4 separate regions of the Homo sapiens genome follow, and all the other regions are linked to region 1. The links come from fine-mapping of genetic effects on gene expression. A gene starts in region 1. Each other region holds a variant in brackets. All regions are shown on one strand. Distances are from middle to middle. Region 1 holds the start of FMN2 (formin 2). Region 2 overlaps FMN2 (formin 2). Region 3 overlaps FMN2 (formin 2). Region 4 overlaps FMN2 (formin 2).

Region 1 (5,256 bases):
GCTTTGTAGTTTGCCTTTATGATATCCTTACCGGTCCCCCAAGAGTAAACTATGCAGTGTTTTATGTTATAAAAAAATTGTGGTCTAAATTTGCAGGTTCCAGTATTCTTTCTGCTGCTATGTGATCTTGGACAAATCTCTTAGCCTCTCTGAGCCTGAGCTCATGCTTCAATTATCCTTGAGTTAAGAGCACCTATGTGTATTTGATACCCACACTTGTGAATTTCAAATGAGCCTTTGCATGCAATAGAGATTTGTCAGCTGTGACCTGCTGCACAACTGTCACTGTGAAAAAAAATCATCAATTCTTTCCCTCCCTCCTTCTTTCCCTTCTTTTGTCTTCTGAACGTCTAGAATATAGCACAGAAGAAAACAATAAGGAAATCAGTAGTTCAGAATCAAAGACGTTCTGCTAAAGAAAGAGCAAAAATCAAGATTCAAAGTACCTCAGCACTCAAAGAAGCAGAAAATTCTAATAGCTGCAGGCAAATTGTGCCCTCTGAGGAGCCTAGATTCTAGAAAAAAGGAGAGAGCAGTCTTGTGAAAGAGGTGAAACAAAGGCTTTTCATGTACTCCGGAATTGCTTGGAGACTGGGATATAACCCTGGCAAAGTTATTAAAGTTGATTTCTCTAAAGCATTTACTCGAAAGGGCCACCTAAGGATAACTGGCTAACTGCCCTTAAATTACATTTATTTTTAAAAACATAGTTTGAAAAAGGTTAGTAACCAAAGACTTACAAGACCAACCTTTTTTAAAAAAGAATTTTAAAGGCTGGTTCATAATATGCAAAGGAAGACTACACATTTGCTTGCTACATTTAAGTTGCACAGTATAATATATAGCTTTTCTCCCTCCTCTGGGTTATTTTGAAAATATTAATAAGTTGGATGTCTATTCCATATTTTCAAAGTGGTTATCAATGACTTTTACTTAAATACTTGTAAAACTTATTAATGCCACTTTAATCTCAGTTTACTGCTTAAAGCTTTAGATATCCATATTTTTTTAAAAAAACTATTCTTAAAAAATAGGTAACTAAATTTAATAAATAATGAAAACAATGACAAAATATTCAATGAGGAAAAATGTTTATCCCCATATTGTGGCCAGAACGTTAAGAAACTTTTACAGGACGAAGTCTGCCTGGAAGGGTTTGCTTGGGAAAGTGGTAGTTTATAGCATAACATCTGATTTTGTGTGTTTGTGCCAAGGGTGTTTCCTTTCTGTCTTTTTCCTTTTTATAGGCAGCCACAATAGTGACATGTTTAATATTGATGAGTTTGACCTCCTGGGAGTTATCGTATATGCACCCTTTTTGAATACAAATGCTGTTTAATTTATATGGTAAACACATAGAATTTGGAGACTAGCATTTTAATCAACACTAATCTCAGTATTTTCTACTTCTCCTACCTCTCCTTCTGTCAACAACAACAAAAAAATCACAAACCAATTTTATAAATGACAGCTAATGTCCTCTCCTGGAGAAGCAGGGTCTGTGTGTGAAACATAAAAGCAGCACCATGTGTAGTAACCTCTCCTAAACCATATGCTCAAGCACATTAACAGTGTTCAATTAGATGATCAATTATTCAAGAAACAGAACAATCCATTCATTCAACAAATATTTATTGAACAGCCATGCAGAGGCAGACAGGGGGTTGTGTATGTGGCTGTGACCCGATGGCACCTCTAAACTGGAATTGGGCTTCAGTTTTTCTCCGTGTAAAAATTTCTTCTTTTTTATTTAACTTTTCTCTTGGCAGGTCCAGCAGCTTTGAAGATCAGAGTGCATCTTCCAGCTGACGATCTCTTCGGTCGGGGACAATGCATTCGATTCGCACGGTGGAGATTAAAGTCCCCGAGATAGAGGAAACGTTTTTCGCGCCCAGGTTCAGCGAGGAGCCGCGCGGGGGCAGAGGGGGCGGCGGCGGCGGGCGGGGAGCCAGGCCCGAGCTGCGTTCTGCGCAGCCATTGGTGGGCGCCGCGCTCTGCACTGAGCATGTTCGCGCCCCGCCGGCCCCTAGCCGCAGCCGCAGCCGCAGCGACGGCAGCCACGGGAGCCGCCGCGCATTATGCAAAGCGGCGGCAGATGCGAGCGGGGCCAGCCGGGCGCGCGTCGGCCTCCCCTCCCAGCGGCTCCCCCCGCCGCCGCCTGACTCTCCCGGGAGACTCCCTAGGCCCGGACCTGGGGCCGAGGAGGGCCGGGATGGCCTGAGTGCCCGCGGCGCGGCGGCGCAGCAGCGGGATTGCACCATGGGGAACCAGGATGGGAAGCTGAAGAGGAGCGCAGGTGATGCTTTGCACGAAGGCGGCGGTGGCGCCGAGGATGCGCTGGGGCCCAGGGATGTGGAAGCCACAAAGAAGGGGAGCGGGGGCAAGAAGGCGCTAGGCAAGCACGGCAAGGGGGGAGGGGGCGGCGGCGGCGGCGGGGAGTCGGGCAAGAAGAAGAGCAAGTCCGACTCCAGAGCCTCGGTGTTTTCCAACCTGCGGATCAGGAAGAATCTGTCCAAGGGGAAAGGCGCCGGCGGCTCCCGCGAAGATGTACTGGATTCCCAGGCCCTGCAGACCGGGGAGCTGGACAGCGCTCACTCCCTGCTCACCAAGACTCCAGACCTCAGCCTCTCGGCGGACGAGGCCGGCCTGTCGGATACCGAGTGTGCGGACCCTTTTGAGGTGACCGGTCCAGGGGGTCCTGGGCCTGCCGAGGCTAGGGTCGGGGGCCGGCCGATCGCCGAGGATGTGGAAACTGCAGCAGGGGCGCAGGATGGACAAAGGACCAGCTCGGGCTCGGACACGGACATCTATAGCTTCCATTCGGCTACGGAGCAAGAGGATTTGCTTTCAGACATCCAGCAGGCGATCCGCCTGCAGCAGCAGCAGCAGCAGCAGCTCCAGCTCCAGCTCCAGCAACAGCAGCAGCAGCAGCAGCTCCAGGGCGCCGAGGAGCCTGCAGCGCCCCCCACTGCCGTCTCCCCTCAGCCCGGGGCCTTCCTGGGCCTGGACCGGTTCCTGCTGGGGCCGAGCGGCGGGGCTGGGGAGGCCCCGGGCAGTCCGGACACCGAGCAGGCGCTGTCCGCGCTCTCCGACCTGCCCGAGAGCCTGGCCGCCGAGCCCCGGGAGCCCCAGCAACCGCCGTCCCCCGGCGGCCTCCCGGTCTCCGAGGCGCCCAGTCTCCCGGCAGCGCAACCCGCGGCCAAAGACTCGCCCTCCTCCACGGCTTTCCCATTTCCCGAGGCCGGGCCGGGGGAGGAAGCGGCCGGAGCCCCCGTGCGAGGGGCTGGGGACACGGATGAGGAGGGTGAGGAGGATGCTTTTGAGGATGCGCCCCGGGGCTCTCCGGGGGAGGAGTGGGCCCCGGAGGTGGGAGAGGACGCCCCGCAGAGGCTGGGGGAAGAGCCGGAGGAGGAGGCGCAAGGACCTGACGCCCCCGCGGCCGCTTCCCTGCCCGGCAGCCCCGCGCCTAGCCAGCGCTGTTTCAAGCCCTACCCGCTCATCACCCCCTGCTACATCAAGACCACCACCCGGCAGCTCAGCTCGCCCAATCACTCCCCGTCTCAGTCCCCTAATCAGAGCCCCAGGATCAAGAGGCGGCCGGAACCCTCCCTGAGCCGAGGGTCCAGAACTGCCCTGGCCTCCGTAGCCGCCCCGGCCAAGAAGCACCGGGCCGACGGCGGCCTTGCGGCCGGCCTGAGCCGCTCGGCTGACTGGACGGAGGAGCTAGGCGCCCGCACGCCCCGGGTGGGAGGCTCCGCGCACCTGCTGGAGCGCGGGGTGGCGAGTGACAGCGGCGGTGGGGTGTCCCCAGCACTGGCCGCCAAGGCGTCTGGGGCCCCCGCGGCTGCGGATGGCTTCCAGAACGTGTTCACAGGTGAGCGCGCCCTGCTGCTGGCCTCCGGGTCTCAAGTCGCCTGTCAGTCAGGGCCTTCCCCTGCCACCCGCCCTCCCTGGGCTCTGGAAGGCGGTGACCTGGTAGTGGCACATCTCTTCTCCGTAGGGAATCCTTTTCCGCCCAGCGAGCTCACCCCCCACGGTGAAATGACTTGGACATACTTGTTGGTTTTCTGTGTTCTTACAAGATCTTAAAGGGAACAACTTAGTTGTGTCTGTCCTAAGTTGCTCTGCCCATTTCACCAAAATACCTGCTATTCACAAAGTTTCGGGTCACGCCAGGGAGATAAACTCCTTTTTCGTCTCGTTAGCTAAACCATCATTCTTCTCTTTCATTTTTCATCACCACAGCATTAAAAAGAAAAAAAATTGTTCATGGTTCTTTCGCAAGAGTCGGTTTTGGAGGCACAAATCATTTATTCCGGTACGATCCAAAGGCAGTCTCTGACCGCTCTCATAGCTGTGTGTATTTGTCCACGTTTGGTATGTATGTGATATGTAGTTTCTATCTTGCAGCAGTCTGGGTTCCGCTGCTTAGTGAAGTTAAGCGGTCACTCACTGCTGTTTGCTGCTGCAAGAAAATCCGATACATGCTATTAGAAAATTAATAAATAAATAGAATAGTAGGGATAATTTTCATTCAGTTTCATGGTCCAGCCCAGAACAGCCTGTAGTTTGGAGACAGTGAAGGTGGAAAGGTCAAAAGCACGTCTAGTCCAACTGGTACCTCCCCTCCCTAGCATATGTTATAGACTCATACCCAGGGCGGCATAAAGCACAGCCAGAGTATGTTTGCTCTGGTCAGTGTCAAGCAGTCCAATGAGTTTATCCTAGCTTACAGGCTTACAGGGCCCAAGGCCTTACCTTAAGAGCCCAACATGTTTACCTAACCTCTATTCTTAATTATTAAATGAAATAGAGTGTTAGAATTTAATGAATCGAAAAATATGAAAAGTTACATGACTACTGATAGGTTTATGATAAATATTTGAAGGATTAAACATTTCAAATGCAATCTGAAAATTTTAAAATCTTATGTTCTATTATTTTAATAAATACATTATCTGTAAAACATTGCTTAGATGAAATTTCTCGGCACAGACAGCGACTTCTTAGTTGACTAAATGCTGGTAATATTGGGGTAGCTACTTTTATTGACCACATTTTAATTTTCATCTGTGGGCCACCTTTTATTTTGCCCTTATAGGGTCTTACCCTTAAAAGTAGCTTCTTCCATTCATTTCACATACTCTTATTTTTCTTCTTTTCCACCTTCTCTTTATTGTGTAGATTGTTAAAAAGAATGTTTGTAGTTTTATACCCACTAGATAAATTGTAAAAAAACAAAAACAAAATGCAAAA
Region 2 (5,256 bases), 330 kb after region 1:
TACTGTTAGCATCTTAGAGACTCAGCTTCTGAGGAAAGCATTAGTCATAATACACCTAGAAGGTAGTAATGATAAGCATTTAATTAGAAGTAGGCCTGAAGTTTGCAGTGCAATGCAGTAAGTATTTACCGAGTGATTCATATGAGTAAGGATGTGATAGCTGCTATAAGAGCTGCAAAGTTTATTAAGATACATCCCTGTCCTGGAAACACTGCCAGCTTCGATGAGAATACAACAATGTTAGATATATTCGTTTTGGAAGATACCTTTCCCCCAGTTATTTTCATTTCACAGCTTCTCCAGCCTCCTTCAGCTTCTATTCTCCCTCTTTGCTTTTCTGTCTCAATTTTCCTGCCCAGCCCTAAATTCACAGAGTAAATCCACCAGACCAGAGCCCCTTCCTCTTTCTGTATGTGAAACTACTCCTGCACACATCAGTCTCCTTTTCTACCACCAGCCTGGGGGAAGTAACTCCTCCCATCAGTATCTCATCTGGATACTTCTCTCTCCTGATTTCAACTTCTCCCTTCTAGCCATTAATACATTTACTTTATTATCATAAAATAACGACTTAAGAAAGAAACAAAAAGCAATTCCTTGCCTGTACATTCCCTTTCCACTCTTTTTTTTTTTTTTTTGAGACGGAGTCTTGCTCTGTCACCCAGACTGCAGTGCAGTGGTGCAATCTTAGCTCACTGCAACCTCCACCTCCTGGGTTCAAGCGATTCTCGTGCCTCAGCCTCCCAAGTAACTGGGACTACAGACGTGCCACCACCAAAAATTAGACACTGGCTAATTTTTATATTTTTAGTAGAGACGGGGTTTCGCCATGTTGGCCCGGCTAGTCTCAAACTCCTGGCTTCAAGTGATCCTCCCACCTCAGCCTCCCAAAGTGCTGGGATTACAGGCGTGAGCCACCATGCGCCCAGCCTCCCTTTCCATTCTTTGTAGCCAATCTTCTCCTCCTCATTCCATCTGTACTTATGTCCCTTGTTGATATTTATGTTATTTAATCTTGCCTCATTTTCTGATTTTGTAGCCAGTCTTTTAGGATGTTTCTCTATTTTATTGGTCTTTGAAAGAACCAGAAATTTTGATTTGTTGATTATCTCTCTCTTCTTTTTTTTTTTAAGTTGTTTTTTTAATTGGCTTTCTATTTCACAAATTTCTGCTCTTTAATATTCTCTTATTTCTGCATCCTGTCTCTCCTGGCTTTGTCCGTTGTATGAATAGTTCATTTATTTTTAATTTTTCTTTTTTTAAAATCATATACTCAGAGCTCTAGCTTTGCCATTAAGTTCACTTTAACAATATCCCACTAGTTTTTAAATGTAGAATAGATTTTATTGTTGTTCAGTTATAACTTTGTTATTTTCTCTTTAGCTGATGAGTTACTTATGTGTATATTCGTTGTGTCTGTTTCAAATGCATGGGTTTTGTGTGTTTGCTTTGCTGGTAATTATTTTCCTATTGATTTACAGTAAATTGTATTACACTTAGTTTGGGATCTAGTATGGAACCTGTCTTAGTAAATATTTGTATGTCCTTGAGAAGAATCAGTTTGCCCTGTGTGTGATTCTATGATATATATTCTCATCCGCATATTTTCTCACCCTTTAACATCTCTGAGACTGGGGTACGTCTTACAGTGGATGGCATCTTATAATCGATGTGGGCTCGATTTAAAGTCAGCTTCTTCCAGAGAGGATTTGGATTTGTGTGTGCCATTCAACTGAGGACACTATCAATGTGAAGCTACTTTAATTAAATTCCCTGCTTTAGCTTGAGAGGGTTTTGTTTTGTTTTGTTTTTATAGGGCCTGGTACTGTGAATTCAGATGGAAAACCTGCATGATTTCTGTCTGGCTTATGAGTCATATTTGCAAGGGAACTTTTTTTGGTGTCATCTGTTTGCCCAGTGCCAGAGTTGAAACAAGTTTCCTTACTGTCCCTTTCAGCATGGGAATTTCTTTCTCATTTTCTTTTACGTGAGTCCTTTGGTATCTCAGTTTATGGTTTGCATATGGGAGCAACTCCTCTATTAAGACTCTTCATATTGGACTATTTGTCTTTCTTAGTGGTACATAAAATATTATTTTTAAAATCCATGACCTGCTAAATAAGTGAAATACAGCATATTTTAAAATAAAATTTATTTATCGTAAATTTCACATCTACATCATTACTAATTTGTAGAATCTTCTGCTATAATTGTGAATGTTTGTTTCATCTTTCAATTCCATGACGTTTTCAGACAATATACTCTATATGGTTCTTATCATCCTGATGGAATGTTCTTTTTTAATCATTATACAATGTCCTTTTTTATTGTCATTAATACACTTCACCTTATAATCCTCTATTGATTAATGCTTCATCACGCTTTCTTTTCACATTTTCCTGGCATATATTGTCCATCTATTTATTTTTACTTTTCTGGGCTATAGTGATTAAGACATGTCATTTGTAAGCAGTATTTATTTTATCTGAATTTTTATTTTGATATTCAATCTGATAGACTTTGTTTAATAGTTGTTTTAAATTCTTTTATATTTATTATGATTTTTTTTTTTTTTTTGAGATGGAGTCTCACTCTGTCGCCCAGGCTGGAATGCAGTGGCACAATCTCAGCTCACTGCAACCTCCACCTCCCGGGTTCAAGTGATTCTGCCTCAGCCTCCCAAGTAGCTGGGACTACAGGCGCCCACCACCACGCCCGGCTAATTTTTGTATTTTTAGTAGAGACGGGATTTCACCATATTGGCCAGGCTGGTCTCGAACTCCTGACCTCGTGATCCCCTCACCTCAGCCTCCCAAAGTGCAGGGATTACAGGCGTGAGCCACCACGCCCAGCCTATTGTTGATGTATTTTTATTTATTGCTATTAACTTAGTAGTGTGTTTTTAAGTTTCCAAACTTAAGGGATTTTCGAAGTTCCATTTCTTTCTTAATTACATAAAGGTTACATAAAAGAAGACTGTCTGCATAAGAATAATTCTTTGCATTTTTTGAGATTTGCTGTATGGTCCAAAAGATGGCCAACGTGTATAAGTATACACAGTGTTCCAGTGTTGGATGTAGTGTTCTATTTTATTATTTTAAACTGACTCTTAAATATTCAGTATCTTTCCTGATTTTGTCAGCTTCTCTCTGTCAGTTACCAAGAGTGTATAGTAAAGACTTATAGCTGTGCATGGTGGCTCACGCCTGTAATTCCAGCACTTTGGGAGGCCGAGGC[A/G]GGTGGATCACCTGAGGTCAGGAGTTCGAGACCAGCCTGGCCAACATCATGAAACCCCGTCTCTACTAAAAATACAAAAAATTAGCTGGACATGGTGGTGGGCGCCTGTAATCCCAGCTACTTGGGAGGCTGAGGCAGGAGAACTGCTTGATCCCGCGAGGCGGAGGTTGCAGTGAGCCGAGATCGTGCCACTGCACTCCAGCCTGGGCAACAAGAGCAAAACTCCATCTCAAAAAATAAAAAATATAAATATAAATAAAAAGACTTACAGGCAGATATGTCAGTTACTCCTTACACTTCTGACATTTTTACCCTGTGTATTTTCAAATGCTTTCGTTTTATGCCTACATATCTAGAGTTTTTCATCTTCCTGGTTAACCTAATCTTGTTTTCAGTGCTATCTCTTTTCTGGTAATGCTTTTTGCCTAAATTTGTACTTTGCCTTATGTTAATATTGGTACATATCAGCTCTTTTTGGTTCGCATTTGTCATAGCACCTCCACAATTTTACTTTCAACCTTTCTGTGTCCTTATGGGCAAAAAAAAAAGTGTGAGGGTTATTCCTCAAACACCTGAGGGCATCAATCCCAGTTGTGTACCCAGAGTGGGTGATTGACCACTACAAGCTGTACTTTTGCCAGGATTCCATTACTTCTGACCGTGTAAGCTCCCGCAGTAATGGAAGTGGCCATGTGGAAGCTGTGGGTCTCTGGAAATCAGTGTCTCCTCAGACCCTGTGTCCTGTGGCCCTCGAGACATCTGAGTATTTCCCTTTTGCACTATACAGTCTACTGAGTGATGGCTGCAGGTTTCTTTGTAGAAGGACTAGGGGAAACATTACAGTGTATCCTTGCTACCATGTTTCAGGGTCCTTCCTCACAGGGATGCAATTCCTTTGGTCAGGGGGTCCTGGATCTGAAATTGGCTCAGTTCTGGGAACTGATCAAGGAATCATGATTTTCTATAGAGCAGCCACCTGTAGCCTCCTGTTTTCCCACTCTTGCCCTTTTCTGTGGTCATAGAGGTTGAGCAGCACACTTGTCATTTGCCCCTAAGGATGCTATGCTCCACTAACCATCTCCACAATCCGCTGAGAGTCAGGCCTCCTTGGCTGCCCCTTGGCTTTTTGGTTATTATGGTAATTGTGGTACCCGGGCTTCTGGTCATTGAGCTTTACCACTTGGACCCTATTATTTAGGATCCTATCATCCCAGTGGATTTTAATGAGCCCAGCTCTGCAACCTCTTCCTACAGAGAAGAGCTCCAACTGCACTGTTCAGTGATGCTGATACCCCTCTTCCTGATGCATTCTTTATGGCCTCTGGGTGGGGCCTCTGGGAACTTCCATGGATAATCCTTTGCTCAGTTTTTCTGGACTCACACAATGCATGCTGGTGTGCCTACTTCTCTCAGCTTCCACATTCCTTCCTCTTCCATCTGCCAGGGCAACCCCAGCACACCTACTCCTCTTTAAATTGGCTATCACTCAGAAGAGACCTATAAGAGAAGAGCCTCTTCCTGAATCGCTCCACTACATGGTAGCTAATTCTTGCATCACCTTCCATATATGATCTCTTACCCCTTTTCAGGCCTAGCACTTCCCTAGCTGGGTCTTCCAGGGATGTCTCCTTAATTGTTGTCCTATTGTCCTGCAGCCAAGAGAAGAGCTGGTAGCTTCTGAGGGGGCGGGCCATTTGTTGCAAGGTGTGATGGTGTTCACACCAGGACATTTTTACTAAAGATATCACCTGAGCTAACCTGATAAAATGTGCTGGTGTGGATGCCGTCACAGCTGGTGTGGACACCAGGATATTTTATCAGATTAGCTCTAGTGATGTCTTCAGCAATCACATAGCCACCGTGTGCCAGAGACTGCCCATGCCCCACATTCCCACACAGGACAGGGGGCCGGTAAGAGAACCTGTCCCAGAACTCCATCTCAGTCCCGGTTCTCGCAGACTACTTGTGCTCCTGCTGTTAGTTCAGGTTCTACAAAAAGCAAGTGCCAAGATTGGATTT
Region 3 (5,256 bases), 94 kb after region 1:
CATTCATTTTTAGAAGGCATATTTTGTATGTATATTTTAAAGGGAGGTTTATTTTCCATTCTTAGCTGAGAGGCATATCCCGCTCATTGTCTTACTGTCTTCTCTCTGTAAATACACAGCTCATCCAAGTATGTTTTGTTTCGTGAGTGAAAGGCTTATTTTGTGATGGTAAAGAGGTCAGTCCTGAAACATTTGGAGTCCATAGGGAGTCCAGAATTTTAGATTATGCTCGGAATTTTGAGGTAACTTTTTAAAATGGAATATTTAACCTTTTTTTTTTTTTTTTTTTTTTTTGAGACTTGCTCTGTCGCCCAGGCTGGAGTGCAGTGGCGCGATCTCGGCTCACTGCAAGCTCCGCCTCCCGGGTTCAAGCGATTCTCCTGCGTCAGCCTCCCGAGTAGCTGGGACTGCAGGTGCCCACCACCAGGCCGGCTCATTTTTGTATTTTTAGTAGAGACGGGGTTTCACCGTATTGGCCTGACCTTGTGATCTGCCCGCCTCGGCCTCCCGAAGTGCTGGGATTACAGATGTGAGCCATTGCGCCCGGCCTGTTTTTTTTTTTTTTTTTTTTTTAAGAACATTCTGGTTTCTTAATTTTAAGGATGGGTGAAGGAGGTGGCCATTTTAAATGTACCCTTGAGAGCTCTCTCACCAGGTTAGTCTTTGAAAATAATAACCATTCTAGTGATGAATATTCGATGGAGATGATCAGTCTGTCCTAGAGCTGGGTTTAAGGCAATTCCTGAAAGTGCCCTGGATCCTGGGAGGAGGAGAGTGTTGGGAACGTGGGAGTCGGGAGTTCCGGGAGTGATCACTTTCATTTAGGGAGCTCTATGAAAGTTGGAACTAGGCTGATATCTCAGATTCACCTATCTAGTGACTCCACTCTTCAGCCATTACTGGTACATCAATTTCTCTCCGCTCCCTAAAGGACACTTTCGCCATTTTTCATGTTCCCTTTACTTTCTCCCTCCTATACCTTCCCCTTCTCTTTCTCCCTCCTATACCTTCCCCTTCTCTTTCTCCCTCCTATACCTTCCCCTTCTCTTTCTCCCTCCTATACCTTCCCCCTTCTCTTTCTCCCTCCTATACCTTCCCCTTCTCTTTCTCCCTCCTATACCTTCCCCCTTCTCTTTCTCCCTCCTATACCTTCCCCCTTCTCTTTCTCCCTCCTATACCTTCCCCTTCTCTTTCTCCCTCCTACACCTTTCCCCTTCTCTTTCTCCCTCCTATACCTTTTTCCTTCTCTTTCTTTTATTCTGTATTGTTTTCTTTTTCCTTATCATGTATTTTTCTCTTCTCTCCCAGTGGTTCTCATTTATTTTCCCTTTATTTTTCAGTGAAGTTATTCTGTACATCTCTTTCATGTTAAAATCTTGACCCTCTAGAACTCCTATTTTCCAGCTTATGATTTTGAAGACAGCATTTCAACCTGCAAATTTCTCTTCTGTGTTTTAACACACAGATTCAAACAAATAAAAACTATAATGAAAGGGATGGGATTGGGAGAATGAATTCAGTTCAGGTAGCCATTGAATTAGACAGAGAGGAGCTGAAAGTTTGGGTGTAGGTGTGCAGAATATTTTGCTGATGCATCTTTCTAATGTGGTTTTCTAAGTACGTTTTTCTGATAAACTGCACTTGTTCTTTACCATCAGAGCCCAGAAGTTTACTTTTTGGGTCCAGTTACCGGGTCAAGGACTATAGAACAAAGCTAGAAAGCATTTTATGCATTTCTAATGTAAAGAACTCTTTGTGTACCACCAGGAGAGCCTTTAGGCTCTTGTGGCACGATCTAAATAGAAGAGGAAGAGAGACTTTTCCCCACTGGTACAAAGCCAAGACTTGTCTTGAGTCTATTGTGTTTGGGAGGATTTGGAAGTGACGAAAAACAATAGAAAATGAGAGCGTTCCGGAGTTTGGATTTGCTTTAATATTAACTGTTAACTAGCTTTGCTGTTAAAGATCTTTATTAAAATTTGGCTAACTCTGGTGTTAAGTTCAGAGTAGAGATTTGTCAATATAAGAGAAAAGAATCCATTTTTGATTAGCTCAATGATATGCTATATTTATCTGGGAAAATGGTTGTATTTTAAGGCCAGTTGTTTATTGCCACTGTGACACTTACTGGTAAGTGACTGCATCATGCTATTCTCAGTGAGTTTTGTTTTAAAATATATACTCCTAGCTGAGATTCAGAAAATAGCTAAAGGCAAGGCAATATCTATATTGTCTCTTGTAAAATCCTTACTCTCTCTTTCTCTGCCCAGGATACCCCACTTTTCCTGGTGGAACCCACTTTCATGTTCTTATCATTGTTTTGATCTTTCATTTATTCTTTCATTCACTCCTACAATTACTCAACAAATATTTTAAGCACCTACTAAGTACCAGGCACTATTTGGATGTGGGGGACACAACAAGAGGAAAAACTGACAAAAATTCTTGCTTTCACAGAGTTTATGTTCTAGTGGAATAAGAGGTATAAATAAGTAGGCAACCAAATGCATTATGGAGTATATGGTGTGATGATCCAGGTTACGAAGAAAGTAAGGGTGAGTGTGTGCTGAGTGCCAAGGAGTGGGTGGGGTCGCTGCTTGAGCAAAGCCCCGAAGGAAGCAGCCACAGAGTGGGGCTTGCAGATTTTGGGAAGAAGAGTGAGTGCAGTGCTCTGGGCAGAGGCAGTAGCCACTGTGGCTTTGGCGGCCCTATGGAAGAAGCATGACTGGTGTGTGACAAGACAAGTAAGCTGGCCAGGGTGGCTGGCCTGGTGAGCAAGTTGGGACAGATGGAGGTGGGTAGAGAGGCTAGGGAGTAACAGTAGTTGAAACCAGGCCTTGTGGGTCCCTGTGGAGACAGATTCTCATCTGAGTGAAATGAAAACTTTCATTGTAGCTTAACAGTATGTTA[A/T]GCTGTTTAAATACTAAATGCCTTTTATTTTTCTGTAGCATTGTCACATATATCAGCTACCATGTGGCTAAATTGGAAATGTCAAAATGACCATAAAGAGTGACTGCTGGCCGAGCACGGTGGCTCATGCCTGTCATCCCAGCACTTTGGGAGGCCAAGGCGGGCGGATCACGAGGTCAGGAGTTCGAGACCAGCCTGGCCAACATGGTGAAACCCCGTCTGTACCAAAAAAAAAAAAAAAAAATTAGCTGGGTGTGGTGGCGGGTGCCTATAATCCCAGCTATTCGGGAGGCTGAGGCAGGAGAATCGCTTGAACCCAGGAGGCGGAGGTTGCAGTGAGCCAAGATCGCGCCGTTGCACTCCAGCCTGGGTGAAAGAGCGAAACTCCATCTCAAAAAAAAAAAAAAAAAAAAAAGAAAAGAAAAAAACAAAACCAAAAACAGTGACTGCTGTACCTTGTGTCCAGGGTCTGGTCTGCATGCCAGTCAGGGGTGCAACGCGACAGTCAGGAGATATAAACTCTCGTCTTCACCTTGCCAACAACCACTTGCATTATGGGCTTTGAATTTCTCATCTGAAAGGTGCAGAGGATGGATGAGATTAGTGGTTTTTCAGGCTCTGATTCATGGAGCATGAGGAATTCCTTGAAGGCCCTTTCATTTTTATTTTTATCCTAAAGGCCCTTTTATTTTTAAATTTGCACACAAGCTTCACTTAGAAGAAAGTGCCCTCTCGCTTACGAAAAGAAATCCCTGACTTGGTTATGCCTTAGGTCTTTTTAGAATGATGAATTTGCAGTCTCATAGAATCTCAGATGACATGAGGACTAAAAGAGAAAAACTGCTTCAGAATCCCTTCTTACTCAGTGTCTCTTGGTGACAGTGTTCGTTATCTCTTGTTGAAATCAAGGGGCAATTTGACAACAGTTAGATGAGGCTTTTGAGCTCCCATCCTTCAACCTTGGTGAAGTGGCTTCTATCGTGATACAGACTTCAGCTAAGTGAATAATATAATCTGTGAAAGTCTTAGAAGGACTTTCTGGCACAATTTAGAAACTAGCAATCGAGACAAATAAGGATAGTTGATATATAGAGAAGGGCATAGGAATATCCCAATTTTTAAAAATGACATGAGCATTCTCATTGTATGTATTATATATATTGAAAAGTAGTCATATCCTAATAACCCAGTTATATAATTGGAAGAGAGACTGGATATTTTTTGGTACTTATGGTTAATGATATATTTTAGTGAAAGTTTTATTTTCTGATTGAAGAAATAGGAAAATTGTCCTTTAAGATACTGACTGTCTGCTTCCTTTCCAATCTAGAATCTCAATCTGCTGTTTCAGAAACTCCCCAAAAACGCTCAGATGCTGTCCAGAAGGTAAGATGATCTTATTAGGATGTCAGATTCCCATCTGTCTTATTTGTCTTAAGATTGTGACAGACTCTGCGATTTATCTTTCCATCTGCCCGGCTGGCTAGGATGCCCTTGTTTTCCCTAAGCCTGCAGTGGAATCCAGTCAGGCAGAAGGGGATGTTTTCTTCCATTTATTTTTTGCATACAAAATCAGCCTTGAAATGGAACTGAGTACAAGCTTTTCAGAAGCTGTTTTATTCTATATCCAGCCAAAGAGTTGGGCCCAATAACAGCGGGCTCCAGCAGGAAACGGTGGCCACTCCAGGGAGAAGTCTGCGAGATGTGCCTGCTCAAACAGTCCCATGGCTATGATCTTTAAAAAGAAATCTGTCAGAGCTTTGCTAAAGTCAAATAAGGTTCTTATTACTTTGGTGGATGAAACATTAATTAGTATCTGTTTAATTTCCAGGAAACTATTTTTTTTCTGTTACTGTATTAGTCCGTTTTCACACTGCTGATAAGGGTGTACCCAAGAATGGGCAATTTACAAAAGAAAGAGGCTTATTGGACTTACACTTCCACATGGCTGGGGAGGCCTCACAAGTTCATGGTGGAAGGCAAGGAGAAGCAAATCACATCTTATGTGGATGGCAGAAGGCAAAAAAGAGCTTGTGCAGAGAAACTCCCATTTTTAAAACCATTAGATCTCGTGAGACCCATTCACTATCATGAGAAGAGCATGGGAAAGATCAGCCCCCATGATTCAGTCATCTCCCACCAGGTCCCTCCCACAACATGTGGGAATTATGGGAGCTACAAGATGAGATTTGGCTGGGGACACAGAGCCAAACCATATCAGTTACCAAAGAAGCCAAATTTTGTGGGTTTTTTTTTCTTACGCTAAAATGCAAGCTATGCTAAAATGGATTTCTTATTAAAAAAAAAAAACTGCAAGAAAGGAAACGTGTATGGAATAGTAATTGT
Region 4 (5,256 bases), 21 kb after region 1:
GCAAAGCTGATTCTACAAGCTTCACTTTTGATTAGCTACAGTGTGGAAGAATATGTGGGAAGAGCGTGAGGGGATTAGTACAGCAATAATTGGAGAACATTAATGATTAATAAGTCCCCGACTCTCATTTAATGAATATTATTTTTGATGTGAATTTAATAAATATAGTAAAACAAATATGCAAGCCCTTTTTTTTAAAAAAAATTGAGGCTAGGAATTCTAGCAAGCAGTGTCTTAAATATTACCTTGTTGTTAAAATCTACTAAATTTAAGGAAAAAAACCCAAAACTTGGTGGATGAAGATATTTGAATCTGTGATTACCTTGCCTATTACCGTACTATTTCAAATGCTTTTAGATCCAACTTATGATTTCCTTCTTTTAAGTTGAACCAACATTTTTAATCACATTTACAAGTAGAGAGTATTTGAAGTATATCTTGATCATAATAATAACAGGTAACATTTATTGGGTACTGTTAAGCCTGTTACAAAAATTGTTTCATTTAATTTTCACAGTAATCCTCGGAGGTAATGAGGATGATTATTTCCAATTTCTAGATGAGGAAACAGGATTACCAGGGGTTATGTAACCTGTCTAAGGCCATACCTAGCATAATGGAGGCATCAGTGTTATCGGAAAGGGGTCCCAATCCAGACCCTAAGAGAGGGTTCTTGGATCTTGTACGAGAAAGAATTCAGGGCAAGTCCTTAGAGTAAAGTGAAAGCAACTTTATTAAGAAAGTAAAGGAATAAAGAAAGGCTACTCCATAGACAGAGCAGCCCCGAGGGCTGCTGGTTGCCCATTTTTATGGTTATTTCTTGATGATATGCTAAACAAGGGGTGAATTATCCATGCCTCCCCTTCTTTGACCATATAGGGGAACTCCCTGATGTTGCCATGGCATCTGTAAACTGTCATGGCACTGGTGGGAGTGTAACATGAGGATGACCAGAGGTCACTCTGGTCACCGTCTTGGTTTTAGTGGGTTTTAGCCGGCTTCTTTACTGCAATCTGTCTTATCAGCCTTATCAGCAAGGTCTTTATGACCTGTATCTTGTGCTGACCTCCTACTCATCCTGTGACTAAGAATTTCTTAACCTCCTGGGAATGCATCCCAGTAGGTCTCGGTCTCATTTTACCCAGCCTCTATTCAAGATGGAGTCACTCTGGTTCAAACGCCTCTGACATCGGGATTGAGATCCAGGAAGTAGCTTCTGTTGCTTAAGCTATGGCTGCAATCCCATGCCTCCCCACATGGGTGTACTTCATGAAGTCAAGGTACAGAGTCCACGTGTTTTCAGGGGAAAGGAATAGGCAGAAAATAAGGAACACTTTCCATCCTATAAAAGAATGAGAGAATTCTTCATGGTTATACTATTCTAGATTTCTTCAGTTCTGCATAATTAGGTATATAATATGTAATATGTGTGATCAATGACATGGGCCTTTCCTAGATAAAGATAACGTGACCTTTGACAAGACACCTAACATCCTTAGGCCTGCATTTTCTTTTTTTTTTTTTTTTGAGACGGAGTCTCACTCTGTCACCAGCTAGAGTGCAGTGGTGTGATCTCGGCTCACTGCAACCTCCACCTCCTGGGTTCAAGTGCGCCTCCTGCCTCAGCCTCCCGAGTAGCTGGGACTACAGGCACGCACCACCACACCCAGCTAATTTTTGTATTTTTAGTAGAGACCGGGTTTCACCCTGTTGGCCAGGTTGGTCTCGATCTCTTGACCTCATGATCTGCCTGCCTCGGCCTCCCAAAGTGCTGGGATTACAGGCGTGAGCCACTGCATCTGGACAGGCCTGCATTTTCTAGTTCAGAAAATGATATTAGAGGCTGGGTTTGAAGGACAGGAAGATGGCCCCTCCCACTGAGTCTTTTATTTGGGTGGAGGGAGGAAAGGGAGCAGAAAGAGCCCAAGAAACTTTGCCCGTCTCCTGCCCTTATCTTTATAGAGTTATAAATTTCTCAGAAACTAGCATTTATATACTTATAAAGTTTATAGCAATCTGTGCTATAGAGATGATTTTATCAGCTTTTGAGAATTTTCTCCACTTGCAGTGTTGCTGCACCTGCTGGGGGTGTGTTCTCTAGGCAGTGTCAGAGCCTAACTCTTCCTTTATGGGGATTGCACTTGCGTTTTCCTGA[T/A]AAGTGACCCTGGGACAGTGTGTGCTTCTGAAGGCCTCCCTGGCTGACCCTGTGGTCCGGGCCCTAGGGACTGACCTTCTAGCTGGCACCAGCTCCTGCTGTGAAATGGCTGCTGCCCACAGGCAGTGTTTTGTGAGCTGTTCATTCAGCAGATAGATTTTTGGCAAATTGACTTAGTGCTGTTTTGCAAAGAGTAGGAGCTCAGGAAATATGGTTGAATAAATAAACGTAAGCAAATATGAAGTAAAATGCAGGCTTGAATAGCTGGACACTTGAAAAAGTTAAAATTACTCTAGGGCCAATGATTTTCATTTATTGGTGTGGTTGACATGTCTGTCTAGGAACAGTGATTTGACCAAGGAGTAGAGTGAGGGGACTGGGGGATACCTTGACTGGGGGATACTGTGGTCATGGGGTGTGAAAGCCCGTGTCAGAGGGAACCGGGAAGCCTCTGGTTCCTGGCCCCAGCCAGCCAGTTTGCACAGTTAAGAAGTAAGATTGTGGCCGGGCACGGTGGTGCGCACCTGTAATCCCAGCACTTTGGGAGGCCGAGGTGGGCGGATTGCCTGAGGTCAGGAGATCGAGACCATCCTGGCTAACATGGTGAAACCCCATCTCTACTAAAAATACAAAAATTGGCCAGGCATAGTGGCACACGCCTATGGTCCCAGCTACTCGGGAGGCAGGAGAATCGCTTGAACCGGGGAGGCAGAGGTCGCAGTGAGCCGAGATCACGACACTGCACTCCAGCCTGGGGGACAGAGCAAGACTCCGTCTCAAAAAAAAAAAAAAAAAAAAAATAAGGTTGTGTTTAAGGCTTCAGGGCAGTCCATTCTCCCTAGTTTAGATTCAAGGCATCCTAATCCTATTTAGTAGGTGAGTGTCTCCTGATTAAATTCTCAATTATCAAATGCAGGAAGAGAAATAAAAGTTCATGTCTCTGTCCACTCCCCCTGACCTGGTTGGTCAAATTACATTCCTTGAACAGAAAAGGAGTTCAGTATAGTCCAGCTGGAGTGTGTGTCCTGGAAATAACAAAAACTGTTTGCCTTCCCACCACAGCGATTTTGACTCTTTAATAAACTGTGTTCGTATCTCTTGGTTTTGCAAAATCAGGAACATGCTTTGTTTAGTTTTGTGATCTTGAATTTTCACATGATTTTTGTGTCACATATTTCTGTGTAAGTAAATGTTTTTAATAGTGTGATTTAAGATATTTTATTGTGAAAGTGGAATATACACACTCAGAGAATTACAATGAATTCCCATGAATCCATTACTCAGCTTCAGTAATCATCAATATTTTCAATGCCATAATAGTTTTATCAACCCTTTTTTTCCACTTCTACCCCATGCCACCTACTTTTTTGTGAAATAATTTAAAACAAGCTCCAGACATCATGTTATTTTAATATCAAATATGTATCTCAAAAATGGACTTTTAAAGTATGCTACAATGTCATTCTTTATATTGAAAGCAAATAGAGTAAGTTGTTCAATATTACCTGGTAACTAGTCCATCCTCAGAACTCTCTGATACTCTAGAATGGATGCTAGGTGCAATCTGACAGTTGAATTGGTTCATGCTGAGTTCTCCTTTCTTTTGTTCCAGAGGCTGGGGGACAGCAGGAAAGCTCGATGGGGGATGCTGTGTACTTTATGATCACCCCCAGCAGGGGCCCACCATGTCTGGCTTTCTCAGTTGTCCTGAAGCTGTGAATGATCCCTGGGTTTGGGGCTGACAGCTTGATCCTTTCTTTGCAAGAGTTTCAATTGACCTTTTCTCTAATGGATTTTCCATCCACTTGCTGTTCTTTAAGTGAACCCATTATTTCATTAGGGATTGCAAAATGGTGATTTTCTAATTATATCATTTCTTTTTTTTTTTTTTTTTTGAGACAGAGTCTCACACTCTGTCGCCAGACTGGAGTGCAATGGCGAGATTTCAGCTCACTGCAACCTCCGCTTCCCAAGTTCAGGTGATTCTCCTGCCTCAACTTCCAGAGCAGCTGGAACTACAGGCATGCTCCACCATGCCCAGCTAATTTTTGTATTTTTAGTAGAGATGGGGTTTCACCATGTTGGCCAGGATGGTCTCGATCTCTTGACCTTGTGATCTGCCCACCTCGGCCTCCCAAAGTGCTGGGATTACAGGCGTGAGCCACCGCGCCCGGCCAATTCTATCATTCCTTTTGCACATTTTGGCTGGAATTTTTCTGTATTGAAGACTTTATTCACTAGGTATGGTTGTTACCCTGAAATACAGTTCTTTCTAGAAAGGCAGCATAAATGCCTCATTATTTCCTATTCTGTTATCAGTGCCCTAGCATTCTTCAGTGATAGCTGATGTTTTATTTTTCTGGTTTCTTTAAATATATTTAATATGTTTAAATCAATTAAGTGATTATTCTTTCTGTAATAGCATGGCTTTTAATGGCTGTATAGTTAGCAGTCATGTGTATAAAGCTATCTTTTTTTATTTATGTCTGTATTGTTGGACATTTTAGTTCCTTTGAATTTTGGTACTATTAATAATCTATTTGTTATAGTACCAGGAACTGTGATAAATACTTGACATGCATTATCTCATTTAGTCATCATAATACTCCCATGATGCATCACTCTGAGGATACCTCTGAATATTTACCTAGAATAGCTTTTATAAAGTTGAATTTCTGGGTCAAAGGGGTGAATTTTTAAAGATCACTGACACACATTGCCAAATTGCCCCTTAAAGCTTTCCTTGTCGGTGCTGATGCCCACTTCTGGGTTTTGGGATACCTTGAGTTCAGGTTGAGGGACACTGGAGGAACAAAACTGGTAAACCTGCTGGTTTGGTGGTTCTTTGAATTCTCATCTTTTTCCCCAGTCCTCCTGCTATTACAATACAGTCTTGTCACAGAGCCAACCCCAAAACTGGGGTTCTGCCTGGGAGAAAACATGGGTTCTTGGCTTCCCTCAGGAAGCAATTCAAGAGGGAACCACAGAGCAAAGGGAAAGCAAGTTTATTAAGAAAGTAAAAGAATAAAAGGGTGGCTACCCCATAGGCGGAGCAGCCCTGAGGGCTTCTGACTGGCTATTTTTATGGCTATTTCTTGATC

Evidence for each region. PIP is the estimated chance that this variant, and not a neighbour inherited with it, causes the effect.
Region 2: its variant is fine-mapped to the expression of FMN2 in lung (TOPMed, PIP above 0.99). The same link has a PIP of 0.9 or more in thyroid.
Region 3: its variant is fine-mapped to the expression of FMN2 in lung (TOPMed, PIP 0.96).
Region 4: its variant is fine-mapped to the expression of FMN2 in testis (GTEx, PIP above 0.99).

Annotation. Positions count from the first base shown.
Region 1 is chr1:240,089,851-240,095,106 of GRCh38, forward strand. FMN2 (formin 2) reads left to right here and starts at 2,033. Exons shown (of 18, transcript NM_020066.5): 1 at 2,033-3,874. The coding sequence starts at 2,260.
Region 2 is chr1:240,415,641-240,420,896 of GRCh38, forward strand. All of the region lies in intron 15 of FMN2 (formin 2), which reads left to right. Among named protein-coding and RNA genes, the nearest start is that of GREM2, 190 kb to the right of the region's middle. The variant A/G (reference allele first, on the strand shown) is at 3,238.
Region 3 is chr1:240,183,967-240,189,222 of GRCh38, forward strand. FMN2 (formin 2) reads left to right here. Exons shown (of 18, transcript NM_020066.5): 4 at 4,241-4,296. Among named protein-coding and RNA genes, the nearest start is that of FMN2, 95 kb to the left of the region's middle. The variant A/T (reference allele first, on the strand shown) is at 2,911.
Region 4 is chr1:240,110,625-240,115,880 of GRCh38, forward strand. All of the region lies in intron 1 of FMN2 (formin 2), which reads left to right. Among named protein-coding and RNA genes, the nearest start is that of FMN2, 21 kb to the left of the region's middle. The variant T/A (reference allele first, on the strand shown) is at 2,156.